Linked DNA regions of Homo sapiens. The protein of the gene in region 1 interacts with the protein of each later gene in a biochemical or structural test. Each region holds a gene or a part of one and is shown in the gene's direction. Other genes may lie near its edges. The genes, in order: IL16, SMCHD1, SEMA4F, CGN, CACNA1D, CD226 and GAGE12J.

The links.
Region 2: the proteins of IL16 (region 1) and SMCHD1 interact in a test that uses a peptide from one of them, tested with the Homo sapiens proteins (one large-scale study listed by IntAct).
Region 3: the proteins of IL16 (region 1) and SEMA4F interact in a test that uses a peptide from one of them, tested with the Homo sapiens proteins (one large-scale study listed by IntAct).
Region 4: the proteins of IL16 (region 1) and CGN interact in a test that uses a peptide from one of them, tested with the Homo sapiens proteins (one large-scale study listed by IntAct).
Region 5: the proteins of IL16 (region 1) and CACNA1D interact in a test that uses a peptide from one of them, tested with the Homo sapiens proteins (one large-scale study listed by IntAct).
Region 6: the proteins of IL16 (region 1) and CD226 interact in a test that uses a peptide from one of them, tested with the Homo sapiens proteins (one large-scale study listed by IntAct).
Region 7: the proteins of IL16 (region 1) and GAGE12J interact in a test that uses a peptide from one of them, tested with the Homo sapiens proteins (one large-scale study listed by IntAct).

Annotation. Positions count from the first base shown.
Region 1 is NC_000015.10:81,290,879-81,294,378, forward strand, and holds part of IL16 (pro-interleukin-16), read left to right. Parts: intron 1-1,677; coding exon 1,678-2,159; intron 2,160-3,500. UniProt on the Homo sapiens protein: Interleukin-16 stimulates a migratory response in CD4+ lymphocytes, monocytes, and eosinophils. Primes CD4+ T-cells for IL-2 and IL-15 responsiveness. Also induces T-lymphocyte expression of interleukin 2 receptor. Ligand for CD4.
Region 2 is NC_000018.10:2,658,726-2,662,225, forward strand, and holds part of SMCHD1 (structural maintenance of chromosomes flexible hinge domain-containing protein 1), read left to right. Parts: intron 1-3,500. UniProt on the Homo sapiens protein: Non-canonical member of the structural maintenance of chromosomes (SMC) protein family that plays a key role in epigenetic silencing by regulating chromatin architecture.
Region 3 is NC_000002.12:74,678,247-74,681,293, forward strand, and holds part of SEMA4F (semaphorin-4F isoform 1 precursor), read left to right. Parts: intron 1-1,029; coding exon 1,030-1,088; intron 1,089-1,352; coding exon 1,353-1,963; 3' UTR 1,964-3,047. UniProt on the Homo sapiens protein: Probable cell surface receptor that regulates oligodendroglial precursor cell migration. Might also regulate differentiation of oligodendroglial precursor cells. Has growth cone collapse activity against retinal ganglion-cell axons.
Region 4 is NC_000001.11:151,510,091-151,514,186, forward strand, and holds the start of CGN (cingulin), read left to right. Parts: upstream 1-1,296; 5' UTR 1,297-1,425; intron 1,426-4,096. UniProt on the Homo sapiens protein: Probably plays a role in the formation and regulation of the tight junction (TJ) paracellular permeability barrier.
Region 5 is NC_000003.12:53,501,111-53,504,610, forward strand, and holds part of CACNA1D (voltage-dependent L-type calcium channel subunit alpha-1D), read left to right. Parts: exon of another isoform or gene 1-337; coding exon of another isoform or gene 338-394; intron 395-504; coding exon 505-610; intron 611-3,500. UniProt on the Homo sapiens protein: Voltage-sensitive calcium channels (VSCC) mediate the entry of calcium ions into excitable cells and are also involved in a variety of calcium-dependent processes, including muscle contraction, hormone or neurotransmitter release, gene expression, cell motility, cell division and cell death.
Region 6 is NC_000018.10:69,937,874-69,941,373, reverse strand, and holds part of CD226 (CD226 antigen isoform a precursor), read left to right. Parts: intron 1-3,500.
Region 7 is NC_000023.11:49,320,701-49,324,836, forward strand, and holds the start of GAGE12J (G antigen 12J), read left to right. Parts: upstream 1-1,336; 5' UTR 1,337-1,444; intron 1,445-2,485; 5' UTR 2,486-2,493; coding exon 2,494-2,577; intron 2,578-3,042; coding exon 3,043-3,163; intron 3,164-4,136.

The DNA of each region.
Region 1 (3,500 bases):
CTAGTTTATAATAATAGAATATTAGAAAAACTAACATTTGGGAATATAATTCTGACATTTATTTAATTCTTATAATTCTTATAATAAATCAGAGACTATGCTAATTCATGCATTCACACATAATTTTTATGCAAATTTTATAAGAAAAAGTGAGGCCCTCAGAGACTCTCTTACTCAAAGTCATACCACTAGAGCACAGAGGCTCTGGAATGGAGATCCAGCTGGCTTGACTCCCATGCCTAGCCATTGGGCATTAATCACGTCTACCATGGAACATCCTTATGAAAGAACAACATGCAACCATTGGCACTGATATTGACAAGAAATTAAATGATCTGGGGAAATGTTCAGAGAAAAGAACAGAACACAATTTATTTCAGCTCTGGTTTATTATTTCTACCCACCCAACATGCATATATGCTCGGGAAAGCATGACAGAGAAACTCACCAAAATTTTGACAGTAGTTATTTCTGGCTGATAGGAACACAGGTGAAGTGAATTTTTACTTTCATTCCTTCCTCCTTGTGGCTGAGTTTTCTCTAAGGAGGATGCATTATTTCATGATCAGGAAAAAAAAAAAGAAAACTTTTTATTTAAAGAGAAAGTGAGTTAGGAGCTTGGCTGGCCTTGGTTCTCTCTCATGGGGCTCCTCTGGCTTTCTTGGTCTCTCAGAATGAGCTGGAATTTGAGCAAGAGACTAGATTTCAATCCTCTCCCACCCCTTCAAGCTGTGATTTTAGGAAAGGGGCACCCTTGACAGCTTACCACTAGAGAGAAGGGCCTCTCAAGGATGTGTGGGTAGCCCTAGTGCTGGAAACTAGGGTAGGGGGTACTGAGAACCAGGAAGGGCTAATGGGGAGGGAGGGAGGAAGGTGCAGTGGCTAAGAAATAGCGGCTTTCTGCCCTCACCTCACCCTCAACTGGAAAGAAATAGTGACTTCTTCGTGTAAGATTCAAAGTGCCTTGACAGGTAGTTTCTCTGTCTTTGTTATTGAGCCTCAAAATAACCCCAGTGACTTTAAAATTATCATCCTCATTTTACAGATGCAGAAATGGAGTTGGGTCCCCCAGGAAGCTGACTCTGAGATGGAGTTTGGTCTGCAGGCAGTGTCCTGGGGTTCACTACCTGTGGCAGGGAGGGGAGCAGGCAGGGTAGACAGAGGGAGGACGGAGCTGAGGTGCACACCCAACAGCTTCAGCCAAGCCCTGGAGCTCTGCAGCCAAAGTCCCCATTAGAGTTGTCCTATGTTGGCCAACATAGCTGGGCCTCTGTAACCCTATCTCCAGCAGTCCCTGGAGATGGGCTGCCCCATTGGACAAGGCAGCTGTCTGCAGCTGTGGCAGCCCCTGGAGGGACCCACAGCTGAAAGTAGTCTGCCAGCAGCACTCCCCACAGCTGGGACACCAAGCCCTTCCTCGATGGGTGATCTGGGTGGCATATCTCCATATACATCAGTCATAGGCTCAGAAAGCTTGAATGATTTTCCCAACCCAAAGTCATACAGCTCGCCAGGGACCAACACCAAGACTGCCATACTCCAGATCCACAGTGACTTCAGATAAGAAGCAGATGGCCGATGTGCAGTGTGCTGCCCGTGGCAGTCACAGGTGAGGCCAGGGGGTATTTCTGTTTTCTGAAGCTCAGCTGTGAAGATTCTCTTGTGCTTCCCACACAGGTGTCAAAAGGCTGGAAAGCAGTTGGCACGGGCGGCCCACCTTGGAGAAGGAACGAGAGAAGAACTCAGCACCCCCGCATCGCAGGGCTCAGAAGGTCATGATCCGCTCCAGCAGTGACAGCAGCTACATGTCTGGGTCCCCAGGGGGAAGTCCTGGGAGTGGCAGTGCTGAGAAGCCGTCCTCTGACGTGGACATCAGCACACACAGCCCCAGCTTGCCTCTGGCACGGGAGCCAGTGGTGCTTTCTATAGCATCCTCCAGGCTGCCCCAGGAGAGCCCACCCCTCCCAGAGAGCCGGGACAGCCACCCGCCGCTGAGACTGAAGAAATCCTTTGAGATTTTGGTGAGAAAGCCTATGTCCTCCAAGCCCAAGCCTCCACCCAGAAAATACTTTAAAAGTGACAGTGACCCTCAGAAGAGTCTGGAAGAGAGAGAGAACTCCTCATGCTCTTCTGGGCACACCCCACCCACCTGTGGCCAGGTAAGAGGATGGGTCCACAGGTTGAGTGTTTCCAGGACCAGACTCAAATCTTGAGCATGGGCAAATTAGCAAGTTAGTGTTAGCAGGGCCAGAATGAAAGTTTCTCCTGCTCCACCAGAGAGAAACTGTTGCCTAGGACTCAGCTGAGGACTGACCATGAAAAGATGGGTTTGAAGGTTGACAGATAATTGAAGTCCCAGTCCTGCTTGCTGGCATCTGGGTTCCCACCCATAACACACTGGAATTTAAGGTTCCTTTCTTGTGTCATTTTTCACTCACCATGAAGGAAAAATACCAGGGCCCCTGCAGGGTCTCAGTCTTTGCATGTGGATCTTTGAGTGTCCTGCTTGTAGGGAGAATAGTGGCTTAAATAACTAAAAAGGGGCCTGGCACGGTGGCTCATGCCTGTAATCCCAGCACTTTGGGAGGCTGAGCCGGGTGGATCATGAGCTCAGGAGTTCAAGACCAGCCTGGCCAAGATGGTGAAACCCTGTCTCTACTAACAATACAAAAATTAGCCGGGTATGGTGGCAGGTGCCTGTAATCCCAGCTACGCAGGAGGCTGAGGCAGGGAATTGCTTAAACCCGGGAGGAGTGGCTCCTTCCAAGGGCTATTGTGAGGATTAAAGGTAACCACTTAAGGCAAGTACCTGACAGCATCTCAGGCATATTAGCATTCATTGCCATGATCTTTCCCCATCAGGCCCCTTAAAGCCCTCCTTTCCACCCCTTGCATAAAAGGCAGACTGACTGACAGACAGCTGCTGTGTCTAGAACCATTTTATGCGCAGGCTAACCACACTGAGTACTTTCATGTACATTGTGTCAATTAAATCTTACAACCACCTGATGGTGAGAGTCCCAGTTGTGCAAAGAGGGAACTGAGAAACTCGCTCAAGTTCACATTGCTAGTGGGTCACAGTTACCCACTATGCAATGCTGAGTTTCCCATCCTTACCCAGAAGCTGTCTCCCCCATCACGGAATGGCCCTGCAGGGGCCCTGGCCCTTCCCTTAAGCACACCGTGGGCAGGTGGGAGGGGGCCTCTGGAAATCCCCTAAAACAATCTACAGTGAGGGTTGGCAAGCTTCAGGAGGGGTAGCGGTGGAGACGGGATGTTGAGTAGGAGGGGTGAAAGTGAAGGAGGGAGGAGGAAGCCAGGTTACTAAAAAGGAAGTGCAGTTTTGCAGAGCGCTGGCAGGATGTGGCTGGTTAGCAACACATGATGGAGTTATCAGATGGATCTGTTCTCCCACCCCCTCTTTTAAGCCCATATTTCATTTTCCCTTGGGCCTGAGACCTATGAGTCCAGAAGGGCAAATCAGGAGCAGCCAGCTGAGA
Region 2 (3,500 bases), on another chromosome or scaffold:
AATTAATAATCTGAGATTACATGGTCAACAAGCAGTGAAACTGGGATTGGAATTTAGGTCAATTTGATTCCAAAGCTTATGTATACATATACATATATATGTGTGTGTGTATATATATGTATATGTATATATACATATATATACACACATACACACATATATACACATATATACGTGTATACGCATATATACATATATACACATATATACACATATATATACACACACATATATATATTTTTTACACTACTCCACACTATTTATTAGAACCATCACTTTTGTCCTTAGGGGAAGAGACAAAATAATATACTAAAGTTTTTGTTAAAATGTAAATTAAACCAATAAATGTTTGTAGTGTCAGGCAGTATTATGGGTGATCCTAAACTGTTACTTATTTATTTATTTTTTTTGAGACGGAGTCTCGCTCTGTTGCCCGGGCTGGAGTGCAGTGGTGCCATCTTGGCTTACTGCAACCTCTGCCACCCAGGTTCAAGTGATTCTCCTGCCTCGGCCTCTTGAGTAGCTGGGATTACAGGTGCCTGCCACCACGCCTGGCTAATTTTAATACTTTTAGTAGAGATGGGGTTTTGCCATGTTGGCCAGGCTGATCTTGAACTCCTGACCTCAGGTGGTCCACCTGCCTTGGCCTCCCAAAGTGCTGGGAATACAGGCATGAGCCACCACGCCCAGCTCTAAATTGTTATTTGAATAAAGTTCACCTCATGGAAAAGGAGAGGGAAGAAATGGAAAGGACAAATCTGCAAGAAGCCCTTAGACCTCTGATAAGCAGCTGTTGACTCACCTGAGCCCTTGTGGCCTTGCAGAATCAACGATTAGAAGATGACTCATTTGGTTAGTTCTAAAATATGCCCAGATGTTAAGTCCCATGTGTGCATATCCCCCCACCACCAATTTGAAGAAATTGTCTACATTTTCCTTTGTGTGGCTCCAATGTTTTTTGTTGTGCGGCTATTCTAGGTGTTTTGTATTTTAATATAAGATGTGCTCATCAATTTCTACAATAAACTTGAGATTTTGAAAAAAAAAAAAAAAAAAAGCAGAAAACTATGGCTTAGCAAGTGCCATAGTAAGGTAACGAAATATAATGGAGCCACATTAAAAGCTGACTAGTTTGCAGAGTTTCAGAGCAGTGCTAATTAAGCTGTGTGCTTTCTGACTAATCCATGGATGAAAATTACCTGTTGTTCAGAGATAGTGAAAAAATAATTTTAAAAATAAAATTAACTGATCATTTTGGTAGGTAATCATTTTATGCACTGCAAGTCAGTTAGTCCTTAAATATTTAAGAGAAGTTGGGGACGGCATAGTGGCTTACACCTGTAATCCCAACACTTCGGGAGGCCAAGGCGGGCGGATCACCTGAGGTCAGGAGTTAGAGATCAGCTTGGCCAACATGGTGAAACCCCGTCTCTACTAAAAATACAAATATTAGCTGGATCTGGTGGCGGGTGCCTGTAATCCCAGCTACTCGAGAGGCTGAGGCAGGGAGAATTACTTGAACCCGGGAGTCGGAAGTTGCAGCGAGCTGAGAACGCACCGCTGCACTCTAGCCTGGGTGGCAGAGCGAGACTCTTGTCTCAAAAAACAAACAAACAATAATAAAATAAAATACTTAGAAAAATTGTGAATTCAAGAAATAATTTTTATAGATGAAGCAGGGAAAACAAAAAGATAGTTTATGTGTCTTAATTAAATAATAATAAATTTATAGATTAAAAATCCATGGTTTTTTTTTTTTTTTTTTTGATGGGAGTTTCACTCTTGTCACCCAGGCTGGAGTGCAGTGGCGCAATCTTGGCTCACTGCAACCTCCGCCTCCCAAGTTCCAGCGATTCTCCTGCTTCAGCCTTCCAAATAGCTGGGATTACAGGCACCAGCCGTCATGCCCGGCTAATTTTTGTATTTTTAGTAGAGATGGGATTTTACCATGTTGGCCAGGGTGGTCTGGAACTCCTGACCTCAGGTGATCGATCTACCCACCTCGGCCTCCAAAAGTGCTGGGATTACAGGCATGCGCCACCATGCCCCCTGGAAAATCCATGGATATTTAATATGGATGAAAAATCCATGGATATTTCATATGGATTTTTGATGTGGATTAAAAACCATGGATTTTTAATATGGATTAATTTTAAAGTTTATTGCAGCACTATTTACAATAGTAAAGACGTGGGACCAACACAAATGCCTATTGATGATCAACTGGATAAAGATAATGTGGCACATATACACCATGGAATACTATGCAGCCATAAAAAAGAATGAGATCATGTCCTTTGCAGGGACGTGGATGAAGCTGGAAGCCATCATTCTCAGCAAACTAACACAGGAACAGAAAACCAAACACTGCATGTTCTCACTCATAAGTGGGAGTTGAACAATGAGAACACATGAACATAGGGCGGGGAACATCACACACAGGGACCTGTTGTAGGGTAAGAGGCAAGGAGAGGGAGAGAATTAGGACAAATACCTAATGCATGTGGGGCTTAAATCCTAGATGACAGGTTGATAGGTGTGGCAAACCACCATGGCACATGTATATCTATGTAACAAACCTGCATGTTCTGCACATGTATCCAGGAACTTAAAAAAAAAAAAAGATAGTTTGTGTGTCTTAATTGAATAATAGTAGATTTATAGATTAAAAATCTATGGGTTTTTAATATGGATTAGAAATCTGTGGGTTTTTAATATGGATTAGAAATCTGTGGGTTTTTAATATGGATTAGAAATCTGTGGGTTTTTAATATGGATTAAAAAACATCTGTGGGTTTTTAATATGGATTAAACATCTGTGGGTTTTTAATATGGATTAAACATCTGGGTTTTTAATATGGATTAAACATCTGTGGGTTTTTAATATGGGTTAAAAATCAAAAGAAAATGAACTATTTGCTCCAGTGCAGGAAAATACAGGCAATACTGGATACAATTAGATGGTCAGGAGCGATAACCCGGTTGCCATTGTTTGAAGAAGAGAATAAGGTGCTAGCATTCCTATCCGTAGATAATTTGACAGCTAGGAAATAGGGGGAGTCTTCTATGTAGTTAGTGAAGGCTAAATGAACTATTATATGCAGTTATCGTAGAAGAGTACTCAAAAAAATCTGTAAAAAATAAAGAAAGGCCGGGCGCGGTGGCTCACGCCTGTAATCCCAGCACTTTGGGAGGCCGAGGCGGGTGGATCATGAGGTCAGGAGATCGAGACCATCCTGGCTAACAAGGTGAAACCCCCGTCTCTACTAAAAAAATACAAAAAATTAGCCGGGCGCGGTGGCAGGCGCCTGTAGTCCCAGCTACTCGGGAGGCTGAGGCAGGAGAATGGCGTGAACCCGGGAAGCGGAGCTTGCAGTGAGCCGAGATTGCGCCACTGCAGTCCGCAGTCCGGCCTGGGCGACAGAGCGAGACTCCGTCTCAAAAAAAAAAAAATAAAATAAATAAATAAATAAATAAAGAAAGAAAGAAAGAAAGAAAGA
Region 3 (3,047 bases), on another chromosome or scaffold:
GGAGGGGGGTGGTGGGGAGTGTGGGCTGTGTGTTTATGCCAGTGTTCTGGGTTGTTCTTGTGTACATTGCCCATACCTCAGTTCATCCAAGGGAGAAGAACATAGACTGTGAAGTTCCTGTGGCAACAGCTGTGCATGTGGTCTTCCTGTGTTCCCCACTCTCAGCTAGACTAATCAACCTTGGTTTTACCCAAGAAATTTCCATCTATTTATTCATACCAGTCTTGGGAGCTCATTTCAGGGACCTCAATTCATATTGAAGGAGTTCATACTCAGATGAGTCTGTGTTTGATTGAGGCTTTTTGTGTTCAGACCTTTTCACTGACAACCCTAGTGTAGGGGTCTCATTGACTTCCCAGCCTCTGCGAGTGGTGCCAGAGAGTTCAGCAGTGAGCAGTCCATCTTGCTATCCTCCATCAGATATAGTCCACCCAAATCCTGGAAGTGACAGGACTGTGCCTGGAGCTTCCGGCTGGATGACCCCAGATCCTTTGAAATAACACATAGGCCAGTATATATCAACCACTATTGAAGAGTTCCTTTGTAGAGACAAGTAGCTTTTAGGAAACAAGAAGTCACCTCACTGACCCTAAAGGAATTTTGATTAGCTTCTACAGAAAAGGAGTTTGCTCTTTCTCTTAAATAAGAGAAAAAAAAATCCCTATAGTTTTTATCCTTTTTTTTCCTAGAGAAATCTTGTGGTTGTGGAGAACCAGGTTCATTTCTTAGAAGATTCTGTTTCTTTTAAAGCACCCCCACTAAACATCTTTACAACAGACCTAGTGCAAATTTAGCTATCACTGGTCTGCTAGAAAGATGCATGGAACTTGATATGGCAAATGAAATGTCATGAGTAATATTAAGAGGTATTGGGGAAAAATTTGGTGATGAGGAGAAACTTGACTGATAATTTCTGGAGTGATTTCTGGGATGATGGGAGATATATTGAATGAGGGAGTCTTCAGTAATACTGAGGGGGGTTGAAGGGAATGTTCACACTGGATTTACCAAGCATTCTCTTCTTTATAGGTTGGTCCAAGACATAGAGTCAGCAGATGTCTCCTCTTTGTGTCCTAAAGAGCCTGGAGGTCTGTATGGTCTGTATGGATTAGGGAAATGTGGGTGGAGTGGATGGAAAGGGGCTAGAGAGTTGTTCATTTTGGAACGATTCTAAACCTTGGATCCTGGAAGATGTGGCAGCCAGGAACCTCGGGCCTTAGCCTCTTTAGGAATCCCCTTTTTAGCTTAGTCTCCATAGCCCCTTTTCATGTCCGACATCACCCCACACTTTTCTTCATCACACCTCCAGCCTTTAGCCTCACCTCCTTTTGTGCCTTTGCTGTTTCTCACAGAACGTCCAGTAGTGTTTGAAGTTCCCGTGGCTACAGCTGCGCATGTGGTCTTGCCATGTTCTCCAAGCTCAGCATGGGCATCCTGTGTGTGGCACCAGCCCAGTGGAGTGACTGCACTCACCCCCCGGCGGGATGGACTGGAGGTGGTGGTGACCCCAGGGGCCATGGGCGCTTATGCCTGTGAATGTCAGGAGGGTGGGGCAGCCCATGTGGTAGCAGCTTACAGCTTGGTATGGGGCAGCCAGCGAGATGCTCCGAGCCGGGCCCACACAGTGGGGGCGGGACTGGCTGGCTTCTTCTTGGGGATTCTCGCAGCATCCCTGACTCTCATTCTGATTGGTCGGCGTCAGCAGCGACGGCGACAGAGGGAACTTCTGGCTAGAGACAAGGTGGGCCTGGACCTGGGGGCTCCACCTTCTGGGACCACAAGCTACAGCCAAGACCCTCCCTCCCCCTCTCCTGAAGATGAGCGGTTGCCGCTGGCCCTGGCCAAGAGGGGCAGTGGCTTTGGTGGATTCTCACCACCCTTCCTGCTTGATCCTTGCCCAAGCCCAGCCCACATTCGGCTAACTGGGGCTCCTCTAGCCACATGTGATGAAACATCCATCTAGAGCTGGGCAAATGACCACTAGTGTATAAGTGATCACTGGAACGGAGTGACCACTGAGATGCTGGGGGTCACTGGGCCTGGAAGACCATCCCAGCCTCTGAGTTCTCTTTGAGTATGAGTGATTACTTGGATTTTAGTATCTGTTCTCTCTGAGCCTGGATGGGCTTGGGGCCAGACCTTTGCCTGATTCCTGATTCCCATGAGAAATCAGAACTGCTTTCTGCAGCAAATCAGGGCTTCCCCCTAACATCTGAACTCCTGTAAACCTTCATCCCTGGCCCCCTATCTTGGGCCCATTAGTTTTGGGGATGGGGCACAGGGCATAGCTATGACTTTGCTTTCTGGTTGGAGCCTGGCCGGAAGGAAGAGCCCTGGAGGTGGTTGGGGGCAAATGTGCCCTGAGTCCTTGGGGTGGTTCTGCTTATTCTTCAAGTTTATCTGAATCTGTGGGGAGTGCATGATCCCCATGTTGCAATATGGAGTCTCTGCCCTGAGATCTTCCCCATCTCAGTTTTCCTTCCATGAAAGAGTACGTGTAAATACATAGTGTTCATAAGAGACCTGGCCACATGTGCATGAATGACTGGGCCGATGCTTAGGAATATTTATGAGGGATGGGGAGGGAGACAATTGGAATGGGGGCGTTGCCTGCAGAACTTTAGACCCTGTAGCCATAGAGGGAATGGCGTTCCTTTCTAAAAGGAACTGAAACACTGCCCCTCTCCCCATTGCCCCACAACCTTACTCTAAATTTGAGTAGAGAAAAGCTCCTAAAGTGACCTTCCGGGTGGGAAGGGCAGCAGTACACATGACCCCATCCTTTTCTTTGTTTTTACCCCCTGGCTGCCACCACTGCCATGTCACAGCTGCTTTCTCTGGCTGGAGTGTAGGCTGTACCCCATTTCCTTGGCTCCCATTAAAAATCAACAACATTCTAATGATTAGGGAACAACAGAAGGGGAACAGTCATAGGATATACGAGCAGTATAAAGATACGTTTGCAATCAGTGACTACTCAGGGTGACACCCTTGCCCTAAAGCAGGAGTCCCCCCTACCTGGGGTCCATGGACTCCCTGAAATTGTA
Region 4 (4,096 bases), on another chromosome or scaffold:
TTGCTGTTCCTCCCCAGGGAACAGGCCGGTTTGATGGCCCTAATCCTTATATACAGCTTGCTCTGGAATGCAGAGACTTTGCATCCCAGCTGAGGAGCTGGTAAGTGGACTTTACTCTGTAGGACCCACACCTAGCTTTTGAAGGCTTGGGGAGGGGCGGAAACCAGCTCCCGAGAATACACCGGAATCTGTGCTGCATCGAAGATTCCTCTTCTACTCCAATAGATACAGGGTAAATATTTGTTGTAACTAAATGAGAACAAAATCCGGAGCCCAGCAACGTAAACGAAGTCAATCTCTTTTTTACATATCTCAACGGTTAACAGCTAGGATGCCAGCTTTAATGTTGTTTTAACTGCAGCTGGTATGAGCGGTCCTGCAGTTTGCAGAGCCCCTAGTTTTTACTCTTTTCTAGGAACTGGGATCAGCATCCCTACTTTTTGAGAGGCTAACTCTGAGGTAAATTTACAACTGAGTCCCTTTCAGTTTAGAACGAAGGTCATTCCTATTTTGGTAAATTTGCGTCCCCGGTTTCCATTCATTCAGTCAACAAATATTTATTAAGCATGTAGTATGTACCAGTCCCTGTTGTAGGCGTTTGGGGTGAAGCAAGGCACAGAACAAGAGATCCTTGCTCTGGTGAAGCTTATCGTAGGACGGGAGGCAAAATGATGAAAATGATTTTTAAAATTATGTTATTAACTAGAAGGTGATAAATATTACATAGAAAAAGATGTCAGGCTGCAAAATGATTGCGGAGGCCACAAGATAAAAGAGAATCCAAGATCAGGGTTCTGGTTCGGGTCAGGGAAAAGGGAGACGAGCTGAGGTGCAGGAGGCTCTGACGTCGGGGGACAACGGAGATATTTTCTGCAGAAAGTGACGAAAGAGCATTCTGGTTCCTGCAGAGGTAGGTGAAGGACAGAAAGGGCCCTGGCCGGCGATTCCCTTGGAGTAAACGGGAGGCAGGAGGCTGTTTTCTAGCAGAGCCCAGAAGATGCTCTGGCCGACGGCTCCCGGGATCTTGGCCGGCGGTCACTCGCGACCATCCGCGACGCCCCCAAAATGGCCTCCGCGCCCCTCGCCGCCCCGCCCCGACGCTCCGCAGCCCGTGGGTCCACGTGACCTGGCCCGCCCTTCGCGGCTGGAGACCCCGGGTCCCGGTCCCCGCACCGGAGGCCCCGCCCCCTACGGGAAGCGGACCAACCGGAGCGGGGAAAGGCGGGGCGGGCACTGACGGCCCGCGGGGGTGGAGCTCCGCAGCGGAGTAACAGGTTGGTGGGAGGGAGAGAAAGGAGGGAGCTCCGAGGACGAGGGGGAGGGCCGGAGCTGCGCGTGCTGCTTTGCCCGAGCCCGAGCCCGAGCCCGAGCCCGAGCCCGAGCCCGAGCCCGAACGCAAGCCTGGGAGCGCGGAGCCCGGCTAGGGTGAGTGGACCCGGTGCGGGCCAGGGCACCCGAGAGGAAAGCGAGCCTTCAGGGGTACCTTTGAGGGGCAGGCATCGAGGCGGTGTGAGATGCCCCTCTCCAGGGCACCGGTGCCGAGTGGGAGACGGGAGGAGGGGAGATTGGGGCGGGGTGGGGTACTGATTAAGAGCCGACCCCTACCCTGAGGTGCCAGATGCAGGTGGCTAGGAAGGTGCCAGGCGAGGGGCACCTGGGGCGAAGGCTGTTCCCAGCGCATGAAAGCGTTTCAGCGCCAGATGTCTCTGGAGGTCAGACGCCAGCCCTAGGGGCAGAATTTCTCTTGGAGACAGCGGTGGCGCGGGGAAGGAGTTAGTTCCAGCTGAGTCGGGAACTGCTGCTGCCTGAGGTGCAGACTCGCCAGGGGAGGGCATCTGCAGGTGCTGCTCGCCTGAGGGTCTTTCCTGCGTCCTGCGGTCTCAGCTGGCCGTTGTCAGCACCCTGGTGGCTTTGAGATGACTCTGAGGTGTGGGATTTTTTCCCCAGCCCTTCACCTCCGGCCGAAGGCAGTTGCGAATCAGAGACACTGAGGGGCAGATGAGAGGGCACCCTCATCTCTTCACCAGGTGTACAACCATTAGGCTTTCACTTTGTGTCCTTTGCTTTCGTGCCAGGGAGAATCGTTCCTTCTTCCTCTTGAGAGAGAGAGAGAGTACTCCCCAAGAGAGGGATATGAGGAAGCAAAGAGCCCTGCCTGGTCCTGCAAAATATTGATAAATATTAATACTTATTTCTCAGGAGGCCCCTTTCTGGGGGCGGATGTCAAACCCTTTCTCCAAGTACCCACATATTTTTTCTGTGGTTCTAGATGGGGACCATTGGATGAGGTTTGGGAGCCCAACCAATTTCCTTGATGTCTGGAGGAATCCCCATTACTCCCTGAACGCCCTCCAGGCATCCCTGACTCCTGAACTGCGGTGGCTGTCAGAATGGCAGCAGGCACTATTGGGGCAGGAAATAGGCAGGACTCATCAGGAGACCACGAGACTAGGGAAATTACAACTCCAAATCCCCAGGACAGATGAAAGGTGCACCTTGGGGCCCAGACAAGACTGGAGGCAAATTTCTTTGCCTTAGGCAGGTAAAGGAACTAGAGTCAACCTTAGCTTGGCCCCTTTGAAGCCCTGCCTGAGGAAGGTTGTTGTAATTGGGAAATAATTAGCAACCGCTATGTTTGTAGATGGGCTGCCTACACATGCCTATGCATCTCTTCTTTCATCCTGGATGTTTGGGAGTCTGGGGGCTGGCTCTGGGGGACTGCTAATCCAGAGATTTGCCCGACTCTAAGAGGATTCTGGCTTCCTAGAACCCTTCCTGTGTTTCCCAGGCTGGCCTGCATGCCATTCCCCTTGTGGGAGGTGATGGGGGTGTAGGGCTCTTCTCTTTGTGCCAGGGAGGGGCGGACTGAGGACCAGGGAGGTGGCCAAAGCAAGTGTGGGATCAGGAATGCAACTTTGGGAACCTCAAAGGGAGGGGTGGAGGGAGACAAAGTCTCCCTGTCACATACTGGCCTGTCACCAGGTTCCTGTTCATCTGCTCCTCCTGCCTGTTCCCTCCCTGCCCTCTGTCCTCTCCTTCAGAGCTTTGGCTTTGCCATCAAGGCTGGAGAGCCCCTGCCTGTGGTCTTGCCCCTCTGCCTCCTCCGTGGTGTGGAATTTCTCTGGTCTGCTTTACAAGCTGCCAGTGTAGTTTCCCCGGCCCTCCCCTTCCCCTTGCCTCTCAAACCAGTCCAGCCAGTTTGCAGGGGCCCAGTTCCTCATTGTGTTTTTTTCCCTACTGGCCAAGCAGCTGTAGCCTGGCTCTCAGGTTTCTGCTCTTTCAGCGGACCTGGGCAGGAGTCCACTTGGGGGATTCTTTTTGGATCCACGGGGAACCTTCTTATCTCTAACTATGAGAAAAAGGGTGCCAAATCATCAAGGTCACTGAGCTGTCCTTTTCTATTTCGACCATTTGCTTTCCTTGTTTCCTCTGAGGGGATTCTAATCTCTATACCTCAAGTTCTCCCGTTTTCTAAATCTGCCAATTATTTAGCATCAAGCATATTGCCTGGCCCTATGTGAATCAGTCCTTCCTCCACACACCCGAAACCACCCCACCCCCACTTCCTGCCAGAAGTCCAGATACCCTGTCACTCCTAGTTGGAAACCAGATGCATATGGCTGGGCCAGAGGTGATGGAATTGGGGCAGGGCAGGCTAATGAGTAACTCAGGGAGAAGTGGCTGTCTGGTACAGGTGTAGAGTGTTCTCCCACTCCTTGCAGGCAGGAAAGGCAGAAGCAGACAGATGCACCTGAATCAACTTGTGGTCTGGTCTCTTCCTGGAGTACAGTTGGTGAGGAGAGCCCTGGACATGTGATAGGGGAGAGAAAAGTAGGGTCAGGCATTGGTGAGGGCGCAGGCCCTGGACTCCATGTTGCCTGGCCCTTGATCACTGTTTACCTGCCTGTCTCTGGGGCTTACGCAAGGCCTCAGAGCTGCCCTGCTGCCTTGGTCCCGCCCCACTGTCCTCTGTAACCAAAGGCGGGTAGGTTTCGGGTTTTCCATGTTGAATCATTTAGAGCCCTGCTTTCTGACCCACCCCAAAGATCCCTTCAGCCCTCCTGGCCCCTGATCCACATGTCCTTGGACTGAAGGT
Region 5 (3,500 bases), on another chromosome or scaffold:
TGGCCTGGCCCAGTCCAGACAGGCGATTTAGGCTGACCCTGCCAAGAATAGCCCCTGAGAAAATGGCTCTAACACATGGAGGCAAGGATCTGCGGAAGACATTTATCCCATGATGATTTCTCTGTGTCTACCACAGCCGGGAACTTAGTAAGGCTCTTGTCACTTTTAAACCTGTAAGAAGCAGAAACCTAGTTCACACAGTGCCCTAATTGGATGTACTTTTAGGTTTTAATATGCAGTGTGCAGCCGAAGAATGAGTGTAACATGATCCTTGCAACAGAAGAAAAGGACACGGAGAGGTCATTTGGTAGGAGGCTCCACTGTGAGATGACCACCGATGATTACTTCTGCCGAAAACCTAGCAGTCACAGCAGTCAGCCGAAATAGGATTTGTGTATGTCATTTTCCTTTTAAAAGTGCTTTGAAAGTGGTGTGATCGGGAGTGTGATGAGGGACATGGTTTATGTTTCCATAACACATATATACCTTAACACATTTTTTCAGACCATTTGACATATTTATATTATTGGCTATTTTTGCCAATTGTGTGGCCTTAGCTATTTACATCCCATTCCCTGAAGATGATTCTAATTCAACAAATCATAACTTGGTAAGTGTCCTTAGAGTTCCTGCTGGTCCTGGTATATGGTTATCATTTGCTTCTATACTTAAACTGGCAGCTGGCCTTCTGGGTGGTTGAAGTTTATAGCTATGCATGTCGTGTTTCTTGGAGCTTTGCAACAGTGGTTTTTTGTTTGTTTGTTTGTTTTAACCTGTATTCTCAAATTTATACTGACTGAAAGTATTTAAAGTCATGAATCTTTTATAAATAGATATGGAATTTTTATGGAAGAGATTTGGAGCAGATTTTAAAATAACTGTTATCTCCACATAAGTTTTTGCTACCATTCTTTTCCTGATAATATTAGCTTTTTTCTTTTCTTTTTTTTTTTTTGTTTTTAATCTAGTGTTCTTGGGAGTGGTGGGTACTTTGGTCAGTTGTTCTGGTAAGTAGAGAATTATCGTAGACTTTGTACATGAACTATTTTTAGAGAAGTAGAATATAACAAAACTAATAAATCTACATAGAGCATAATTTGGAGAATAATACATGATATTATTGAATACATGATATAATATTAAAGTTTCTACTCCACGTCCTATGAAATGCTCCAAGAGAAAATGATTGTATGGTTAAATAAATCAGGATGCTTCCATATACTTTGCTGCCTTCTTAAAGATTTATAGTGCACATTAGCTTAGTAAAAGCTTTGGGAAGTTCTGCAGTTAAAAAACAGGTTTCCTTTTATTTAACTCAGCTAGTCCCTAAAAGTAATCAGTCATGAATTCTTTAAACATTTTTTTTTTTTTTGGCAAAAGACTTTAACATCATGGAACCAGTGGTCCATGGAACTTCCTTTGGGAAAGGTTGATATAGTTTTTTTTTTAAAAAAAAAGCACTAAAGAGTACTAGACTGGGACTAGGATCTTGTCCCACTCACCTGTCAACTAGCTGTATTTGGGGTCATTTCTCATACCTTTCTGCATTGCTGTGCAGCCACCTGGCAATTAGGAGGATTGGGTAAGAAGATTGCTAGTATCGTTTTTACCTCTGACATTCTGCAATCTTTCTTTGATGATTCAGAAGCCATTTCAGGATTTTTCTGGTGCTGCAGCATCCTTCTTGCAAGGATTGGTTCTTTGCAATCAGAAGCCATGCAGAATGGGAGATGAAGGGGAGCCCATTCTGGATAACAGGAAACTCTATTGTTTTTCTTCTCTTCTCTTAGCTGGTTCCGTTTGTTTTTGGCTTCTCATGTTGAAGCTCTATTTTAGCAGGGCTGGATGTTCCTAACTGAGCGAGCGTTGTAAAGGCAAACACACTAGGCTCTCCCTTGTGTGGGAGAGCTCTGCTGGCTTCTGAAGATAGTGAAATTATGCTCTTGTGAATAAGCCTTAACGATTTATGTACAGGATTTCATGTTACATTTAAAATGTTGTGGCACATTTCAGATGTAATGTGATGTCTATTTGTATGTGGGCTTTAGTAGTTTGATATCTAGAGAATTTTCTAAAAATTTTGGGAATTGATGCTGAAAATACAACTATAAATGGGAGTCGGATAACCACATAAACACTGGTAGTATATATTTGGACAATGCCAGAGATCATTTGTGTAACTTTGGACATTTTATGTAGCTTTTGATTTCTTTGTAGACATGTGACATTAGATGATTGTTTTAAAGAAAAAGCAGAAGTGGTGGAAAGCCTCCCATCAATGGAGATAGATCATCGTAGTCTAGGCCACAGATGGTGTTAGCCTTGTTACCAAATTTAACGACGTGGATGGTGACCCAGATTGTTACTTTTCGTAGCTCAAGAGAACATGATTAAACAAACTTAGAAAATAAATACCTTTCAGAAAGGCAGATTAATTCAGATCAGTGGAATAATTAATGTAGCTGCATGTGTAAGCCAATTAATATTCTGAATTTTTCCCAGGGAAATTCAGGGCACTGATATAGGCACTGTCAGACCATTTGGATTTCTCAGCTAAGAAGTCAGGAAATAAAATACAGGAAATGGATTAATCTTTCCCTTTTGCACCCCTTCTCCAGTGAATCTTTTCTTGACTATTCTTAAGCTTTGAACTTTTTTTTTTTTTTGTGGGGGGGGATTTGGCAGTGTGTTAATTTGGTGGGCCTTTCTAAAAGCCAACGTATATTCCTTTGACCTCTTCATATAGTATTCTGAAACTCATGGCATTCAACTTTGTGTCTTGCTTTCACTTGGGTGGTCACATGGCCAGATGAATTTTTACTCTGCTTGACTCTTTAAATACTTCCTTTCCCACTGTGGGAAGGGAAGATCTTTGTGGATTTCCTTCTGACTCTAAGCAAGGTCCCATGCCATGTTGGTCCTCCCATGAGGGAGCTGGTTTTTTGTTTTTTTTTTTTTAAATACATTTGACCCAATTTGTACTAGAGTGATTGCTCTATTTTTGGGATTGGTTTAGAGGCAGCTGAACGAAACTTATTTTTCATCTGTAGTAAATACCTTTCATTTAATGTGAATGGTAAAATCAAAGGGCAGACGCTGAAATGAGTTGCAAGGCTGCATGTATCTGGAAGCTGCTGGTTTTCTTTGCCTGATAGCTCCATGGGAAAGATGCAGTTGAGCGATAGAGTGAGATCCAGGGCCAGCTTTATGTATGATGTTTCTGCCTGTTACCAGTTACCTAGTAAAATTATGACTTTTTTTGGGGAAGAAACGTGGCCATCCCCATTGATCCAATGTGTCTTTGTTCTAGATAGTATGTAACTCAGCTAGTTTTGGGATTTGGAGACTACCTTGGGGGGCAGAAGTTTTCCCAGGGATAGTTTTTGTTCTTTATTTTTTTAAAAATATAAACACTCTCAAGTTTCTCTGCAGCTTTCGTTTATGGACTTGCAGGGCTAGTGGAGGCTGGAGTCATGGAAACGGTGCAACTCAGTTCCCAC
Region 6 (3,500 bases), on another chromosome or scaffold:
GTGTCTGTGGCTTCTCCAGTTGCATGGTGCAAGCCGTCTGTGGATCAGATTCAGATTGTGGGGTCTGAAGGATGGTGGCCCTCTTCTCACAGCTCTACTAGACAGTGCCCCAGTGGGGATTCTGTGTGGGGGCTCCAACCCCACATTTCCCTGCTGCAGTGCCCTAGCAGAGGTCTTCCATGAGGGCTCTGCCCTTGCAGCAACTTCTGAATGGACACCCAGGTGTTTCTGTACATTTTCTGAAGTCTAGGCAGAGGTTCTCAAACCACAGTTCTTGACTTCTGTGCACCCGCAGGCCCAACACCACGTGTAAGCTGTCAAGGCTTGGGGCTTGCACCCTCTGAAGCAACAGCCTGAGCTGTATGTTGGCCCCTTTTAGCCGTGGCTGGGACATAGGGCACCATATGCAGTCCCGAGGCTGCATAGAGCAGGGGGTCTTAGGCTTGGCCCAGGAAATCACTTTTCCCTCCTAGGCTTATGATGGAAGGGGCTGCCATGAAGGTCTCTGACATGCCTTGGAGACATTTTCCCCATTGTCTTGGTGATTTACATTTGGCTCCTCATTACTTATGCAAATTTCTGCAGCTGGCTGGAATTTCTTCCCAGAAAATGTTTTTCTTTTCTGTCGCATCATCAGGCTGCAAATTTTCCAAATTTTTTATGCTCTGCTTCCTCTTGAATGCTTTGCCCCTTAGAAGTTTCTTCTGCCAGATACCCTAAATTATCTCTCTCAAGTTCAAAGTTCCACAGATCTCTGGGGCAGGGGCAAAATGCCACCAAACTCTTTGCATAGCAAGAGTGACCTTTACTCCATTTCCCAAAAAGTTCCTCATCTCCATCTGAGACCACCTCAGCCTGGACTTCATTGTTTATATCACTGTCAGCATTTTGGTCAATGTCATTCAACAAATTTCTAGGAAGTTCCCAAATTTCCCACATTTTCCTGTCTTCTTCTGAGCCCTCAAAACTGTTCCAACCTCTACCTGTTACCCAGTTCCAAAGTTGCTTTCACACTTGTGGATATCTTTACAGCAACCCTCCACTCTCTGCTGTACTCATTTACTGTATTACTCAGTTTTCATGCTGCTAATAAAGACATACCTGAGACAGGGTAATTTATAAAGGAAAGAGGTTTAATTGATTCTCAGTTCAGTATGGGTGGGGAGGCCTCAGGAAACTTACAATCATGGTGGAAGGGGAAGCAAATATGTCCTTCACATGGTAGCAGGGAGAAGAAGAGTGAGTGCCCAGAGCAGGGGAAGCCCCTTATAAAACCATCAGATCTCATGAGAACTAACTCACTATCATGAGAACAGGATGGGGGAAACCACCCCCATGATTCAGTTATCTCCACCTGGTCTCTCCCACGACACGTGAGGGTTATGGGAACTACAACTCAAGATGAGATTTGGGTGGGCACACGGCCAAATTATATCATATGATCATGGAGACTGATAAGCCCAAATTTGCAGTGTGGGCTTGCAGGCTGCAGACCCAGGAGAGCCGATGGTACAGGTGAAGCCCAGGTCATCTGCTGCAGAATCCCTCTTGCTTGGGGAGGCTGGTCTTTTTGTTGAATTAGGCTCACCTACATTATGGAGGCAAACTGCTTATTCAAAATTCACCAATTTAAATGTTAATCTCATCCCAAAACACCCTTCAAATTGACACGTAAAATTAACCATCATACCTGTTTTGGAAAATGATATGGCATTAGCTAGTTAAAAACCCCAAATCCTATGATCCAATAATTCTACTCTGTTTGGTATCCAAGAGTTCTCTCATTATAGGGAAAATTCCTGACAATATTTATAGCAACAGTGATTGCAATAGCAAAAAATTGGTAACAACCCAAATACCCATCAACAGTAGAACCGAAAAGCACACTGAGGTCTATTCACACATTAGGATACTCTACATCACTAAAATGAGTGAATTATCACTTGCTCACCGACATGGATGAAGCTCATGAACTTTGTGTTGAAAGAAAAGAGCAAGTTACCAAAAAAAATAGGTAAACTAGGGTTCCTTTTCTTTAAAGGTTTTAGAAATATGCATAATTAAACAATACGTTATTTATAGATACAAACGTGGTAAAACTATAAAGAAAAGCAAAGTTCAGAAACATGGTAGGTGGGGGATAGAATAGAATCAGGAAGGGCTGAAAGGGTCTTTAAGGCTCATAGTCAGGGTGTTTTCCTTATACAGGTGTTTTATTTTGCATTTGTCTCAAAATGTTTTAGAAGATTTCTTTCAAATCTACTGATTTCTTTTTCTTTTCCTTTTTTGAGACAGAGTCTCACTCTGTTGCCCAGGCTGGAGTGCAGTGGCATGATCTCAGCTCATTGCAACCTCTGCCTCCTGGGTTCAAGTGGTTCTCCTGCCTCAGCCTCCTGAGTAGCTGGGATTACAGGCCTGCATCATCACACCCAGCTAATTTTTGTATTTTTGTAGAGATGGGGGTTTTGCCATGTTGGCCAGGCTGATCTCAAACTCCTGACCTCAGGTGATCCACCCCACCTTGGCCTCCCAAAGTGCTGGAATTACAGGCATAGGCCACCTTGCCTGGCCAAATCTACTGATTTCTAATGGTGAAAAGAGATGTGATTGCAATTTTTGAGCAGTTGAAAGCTCTAAGGTAAGGATGAAATCTTCATTCTGATATGGCCTGGGGGCCAGGTAGAGGTAAGTTTCAGCAATGGTTTCAAATTTTTATGATCCAAGGACTAAAAAATGATGATTTTAGTGAAAAAGATGTGAAATTAAGAGACCAACTTGGCTAGCAAGAGTGGAATTAAGTCTGTTTCAGGTGTATTAAATTGTAAAGTAGCCTTTGACCAGCTGACAATTGAAATTATGGAACAACAAACCAGGATTGAAAATATCCAATTTGAAGTCATCTGAATGATCATCCAGCACATGTGGATGGATGGGGTTAACTAAGAAAGTACCAATGGATGGGGGCAGAAGTCTAAGGTCATAGCTTGTGGCTTGGAGGATGGTCACATTGTAGTGTGTTAAAGAAGGTGTTCATGTTAAAGAATGTAGAGGGCATAGAGAAAAGAGGGGGAGAGTTGGGAGGGAGAGGAAAGTGAACAGGTGAATTATTGATGTGAGAGCAGAAGACACATAGAACTCATATTTATAGTAGAGGGTTAGATTTTCTTGCTCCACACATGCAGGTACTTTGTGTTGGCTGTATTGTATGTTTGCTGACTCTGTGATCTCCCATATTCCAGTCCATTTATCTCAAACTGGGCACAGAGATGTTCCTCACTGTTTCCCTTTAAGAGTCTCATTCTCTCCCAGGTGGGATGAGGCTCCTTATATGCCATCCATGCTCATTCTTAGAAGGCTCTTATCTCTACACCCTTCAGGGACAAGTGTTCTCTGTCCAGGTTCCCAGCAGCTGACATAGCAGCCAAAGTTTTCTTTCATTCTTGTATATATCTGCTGGTTAGTGGCACTAAAGAGATTCCTTTAATATTAAGGGCTCCAGA
Region 7 (4,136 bases), on another chromosome or scaffold:
CTATTCACTCTCCTTTTTTTGTAGATGGACTTTATCAGAGTGAGTCATTCCATTCTGTTCCAAATTTGCTGAGAGTATTCATTTGAATATATGTTGATTTTCATCAAACAGTGCATCTATTTCGATTACCACAGCGTTTTTTCCCATTCATGTGTTAATATAGTGAATTCGATTGATAAATTTGTACGTTTTTAGGTTCGATTATTAAAACTTGAGACAGCGTCTCACTCTGTCACCGAGGCTGGAGTGCAGTGGTGTTATCAGAGCTCGCTGCAGCCTTGACCTCCTGGGCTCAGGCGCTCCTCCCACCTCAGCCTCCTGAGTAGCTGTGAGTATAGGTACATGCCACCATGCCCAGCTAATTTTTCGATGGTTTTTTGTTTGTTTTTTGTAGTGATGAGATTTTCTGATGTTGCTTAGGCTGGTCTCGAAGTCCTGAGCTCAGGTGATCTGGCCAGCTCAGCCTCCCAAAATACTAGGATTACAGGCGTGAGCCTTGGCCTGGTCTGGTTTTTCTTATATAGGGGTCTTATCTATATAAAGACTAAAGTTAATCTGTGCCTTTGTGCGGGTGGGCTAAGAGCATGATGACTTTTATCATTCTATTGATTTAAAGAAAACTATCCTTGACTTACCAGTGTGTAAGGCCATGAAAGCATAATTCTGTTGAAAGCATATATTGTTAATGGGTGTTGGGAACCGTGCACTTTCCGCTGCTGTGGGAGCATGTCCTTGGAGGTACCTTTCATCTGTTTTCTCAACTCCAAACATCTTAGGACCATGGGTTGTGACTGGTAGGACTATGTATCTTGCTGCTTTCAAGACGGAGTATATTTTCACGTGGTTTCACTCTGGCTGTCCTGTTTCCCTAATACTGTCACTTCACCCTCTGTGATTCTGATGCTACAAATGATAGATATCGTTTTAGCATTTTCTTACGGGTCCTAGCGATTCTATTCATTTTTCTTTCAGTCTCTTTCTCTGACTTGTTCACAATGAACAATTTCCTTTTGGGATAGGTTGCTATTTCTGTTTTCGCAGGTGGTTTACCTGTCTTCCCAGCCAGTCACAGTGGTCCTTGTCCCCATGGTGGGTCCGGGGCAAGAGAGGGCCCTGGGTTGGGGGTGGGGTTCAGTTGAAGATGGGGTGAGTTTTGAGGGGAGCACTACTTGAGTCCCAGAGGCATAGGAAACAGCAGAGGGAGGTGGGATTCCCTTATCCTCAATGAGGATGGGCATGGAGGGTTTGGGGCGTGGCGCTGGGAACGGCAGCCCTCCCCAGCCCACAGCCGCGCATGCTCCCTGGGCTCCCGCCTCAGTGCGCATGTTCACTGGGCGTCTTCTGCCCGGCCCCTTCGCCCACGTGAAGAACGCCAGGGAGCTGTGAGGCAGTGCTGTGTGGTTCCTGCCGTCCGGACTCTTTTTCCTCTACTGAGATTCATCTGGTAGGTCTGCAGGCCAGTCATCCCGGGGGCTGAAGTGTGAGTGAGGGTGGAGAGGGCCTTGGGTGGGTCAGGCGGGTCCCGCTTCCTGGTCTGTGGCCTCCGAGGGAGAAGGGCCACGAGGTCGTCCTCCTTCCCTTCACAGGCTGCGAGGCCACCGGCGGCTTCGTGGTCGTGAAGGGGCCTGGACGGGGAGGAAGGTGGGCCGTGGAGGGGAGGCGGTCAGGGGCTCAGGTGAAGATGGGGTGAGTGCTGTTGGGGGGATGGAAGTCCCGAGGTGCCGGGAACCCCCGACGACACAGGGCAGATTCCCTGAATGGGGCCTCCGGCGGGGGCGAGGCGGGCGGTGAAGAAGGGGCCTGGCACCTGGGAAGGCTGCGGCCTGGTGAGCGCCCCCCCCAGCGGTGTGGAGTGCGGAGCGCCTGAGTGAGAAGCACTGCAAGGTCTCACCTCCGCCATGGAAGGTCCGAAAACAGTGGGAAGGAGTGGGCGAGGCAGTGCGGTCCAACCAAACTTGTTGTGAGGGGGGGTGAATGGCTCTAGGAAGTGGGAGTGTGCCCAAAGCAGCAATCACGAGAATTGTGATTCACTAGGGTTTTCGTGGGGAGTGCACTTGTGAAACTAAACCTCATCAGAAATGACCTCTGTCTGCGGGGCGCAGTGGCGCTCGCCTACGTAGTCCCAGTTACTCGGGACACTGAGGTGGGAGGATCCCTTGAGCGGGAGGTCGAGGCTGCAGTGAGCTGTGATCACGCCGCTGCACTCCAGCCTGAGCAACACAGCGAGACCGCGTGTCCAAAAGAAATTTAGAAAAAAATGTCCTCTGCCTTTTGCCACATGCCTTAAGATGATTGCTCTGCCAGCCTGGCCAGCAGAAGTGGCTTTGTAGGCACTCAGACAGCGTACACACGTATGCTTAACTCTGGGACTTATCTTGAGAGTATTTTCAAAAGTAAAACGGCAAGTTTACATTTATCCATGGAAGTGATCGAATATAGCAGCCCTGTGGAGCGCACGTTCCCAATCACGGTTGTCTGTTTTCAGTGTGAAATATGAGTTGGCGAGGAAGATCGACCTATTATTGGCCTAGACCAAGACCCTATGTACAGCCTCCTGAAATGATTGGGCCTATGCGGGTGAGTGCTTGAACGTTAATTCGATGTTTTCTATTAGTAGAAATTAATTTTTGTGATAGCGTTGTTGCATTAGTGTGGAAATGCTGATAAAGGTCTTTCCTGCTCATAAAAAATGATGATGGCATCTCATGAAGGAAACATTGATTCTGGAGGATTTTTTTTTTCCTCTCGTGTTCTTCAGCTTTTGCCCATGACTTCTTTCTCCGGCTTTGTTTGTTAATGACAGATTGTACACATGTATTCCAACACAGAGTACAATAGCCTCCAAAGTCCTCGTGCGTCACTTTTCTCACAGTAACCTCCCTGTGGGTGGAGTAACCTTATTGGGCATAGAGCATAGAGTTGGAGAAATGTCTTTAGGCTTAGTTAGGACCAGAAATAGCTATGTATTCTGTGTATATATGTAAAATTTTGTATCAATAACGAAACTTATTTTTTATTTGCACACCCACACGTATTCCCCAGCCCGAGCAGTTCAGTGATGAAGTGGAACCAGCAACACCTGAAGAAGGGGAACCAGCAACTCAACGTCAGGATCCTGCAGCTGCTCAGGAGGGAGAGGATGAGGGAGCATCTGCAGGTCAAGGTGAGGGAAAGGGAAGAAGAACGTCTGCTGGTGTGTGCGTGTGTGTGTGTTCGTGTGTGTGTGTGCATGTGTGTGTGTGTGTGTGTGTGTGTGTGTTAGGCATTGTCACATAGGAGGAAGAGGAGGAAAGAAAACAATGGAAAGAATGCCTGAAATTGACTGGAAAAGCGAGGAGGCTATGTAGTTTGCAGCTTAGCTTAGGCAAATCCCTCACTATGATAAAAGTTCTCGACTTTATGAATGAGAGAATGGAGGTGCCAGGATTGTGTGTTATCCAAGAACCCTTGACTGGTGAATACAACATTTGTATTGTGTTCCAAGGTTTGTGTCTTCCTATCATGTGTGTTGCTGTAAAGAAGGAAGTGATTTTGCTGAAAATGCTTAAAACTCAAAAGGCTTTACTGTAAGGTAGCTTAGTACTGACCCAAGAATAGACCCAGTTCAGAGGAGCAGGAGCAGCTCCAAAAACCGAGTCGCTGAATGTTGGCCCCCGTTTCCTTTGATTGATATTTTTATATGGTACGTTTGATAAAAGCTGGATAAATGAGGATACTGCCATACAGGTAGCTGGTTTAGTGATTTTTCTCAGCGGCTTTTAGGAGGTGATTAAATCCTTTTATGGTTAGAAAAGCAAAAACGGAATTATCCTGAGATTAACGTGAGATGGAAATAATTTCTCCGAGATAAAATGTTTTGAAAGGAAGCGTTTATGTAATGGAGGTCATGGATTATTCCAGGGATGCACTGTTAAAAGTTCCTAGAATCTGACTGACAACAATGCCCATTAATTGCTGTCCACCCACTCCCTTATTCTCAGTGCGGGACAGTATATTTTCTGTGATTCACAAACAATGTTATATTTGGTGCTTTGTTCTTCACGGGGTTCATTTATGGAATATTACCTTTAGGACCTTCGGACCTAAATATAACTTTATTTGAACAAAGTGAAGTTTCTCTTTACCCCAATAGGTAA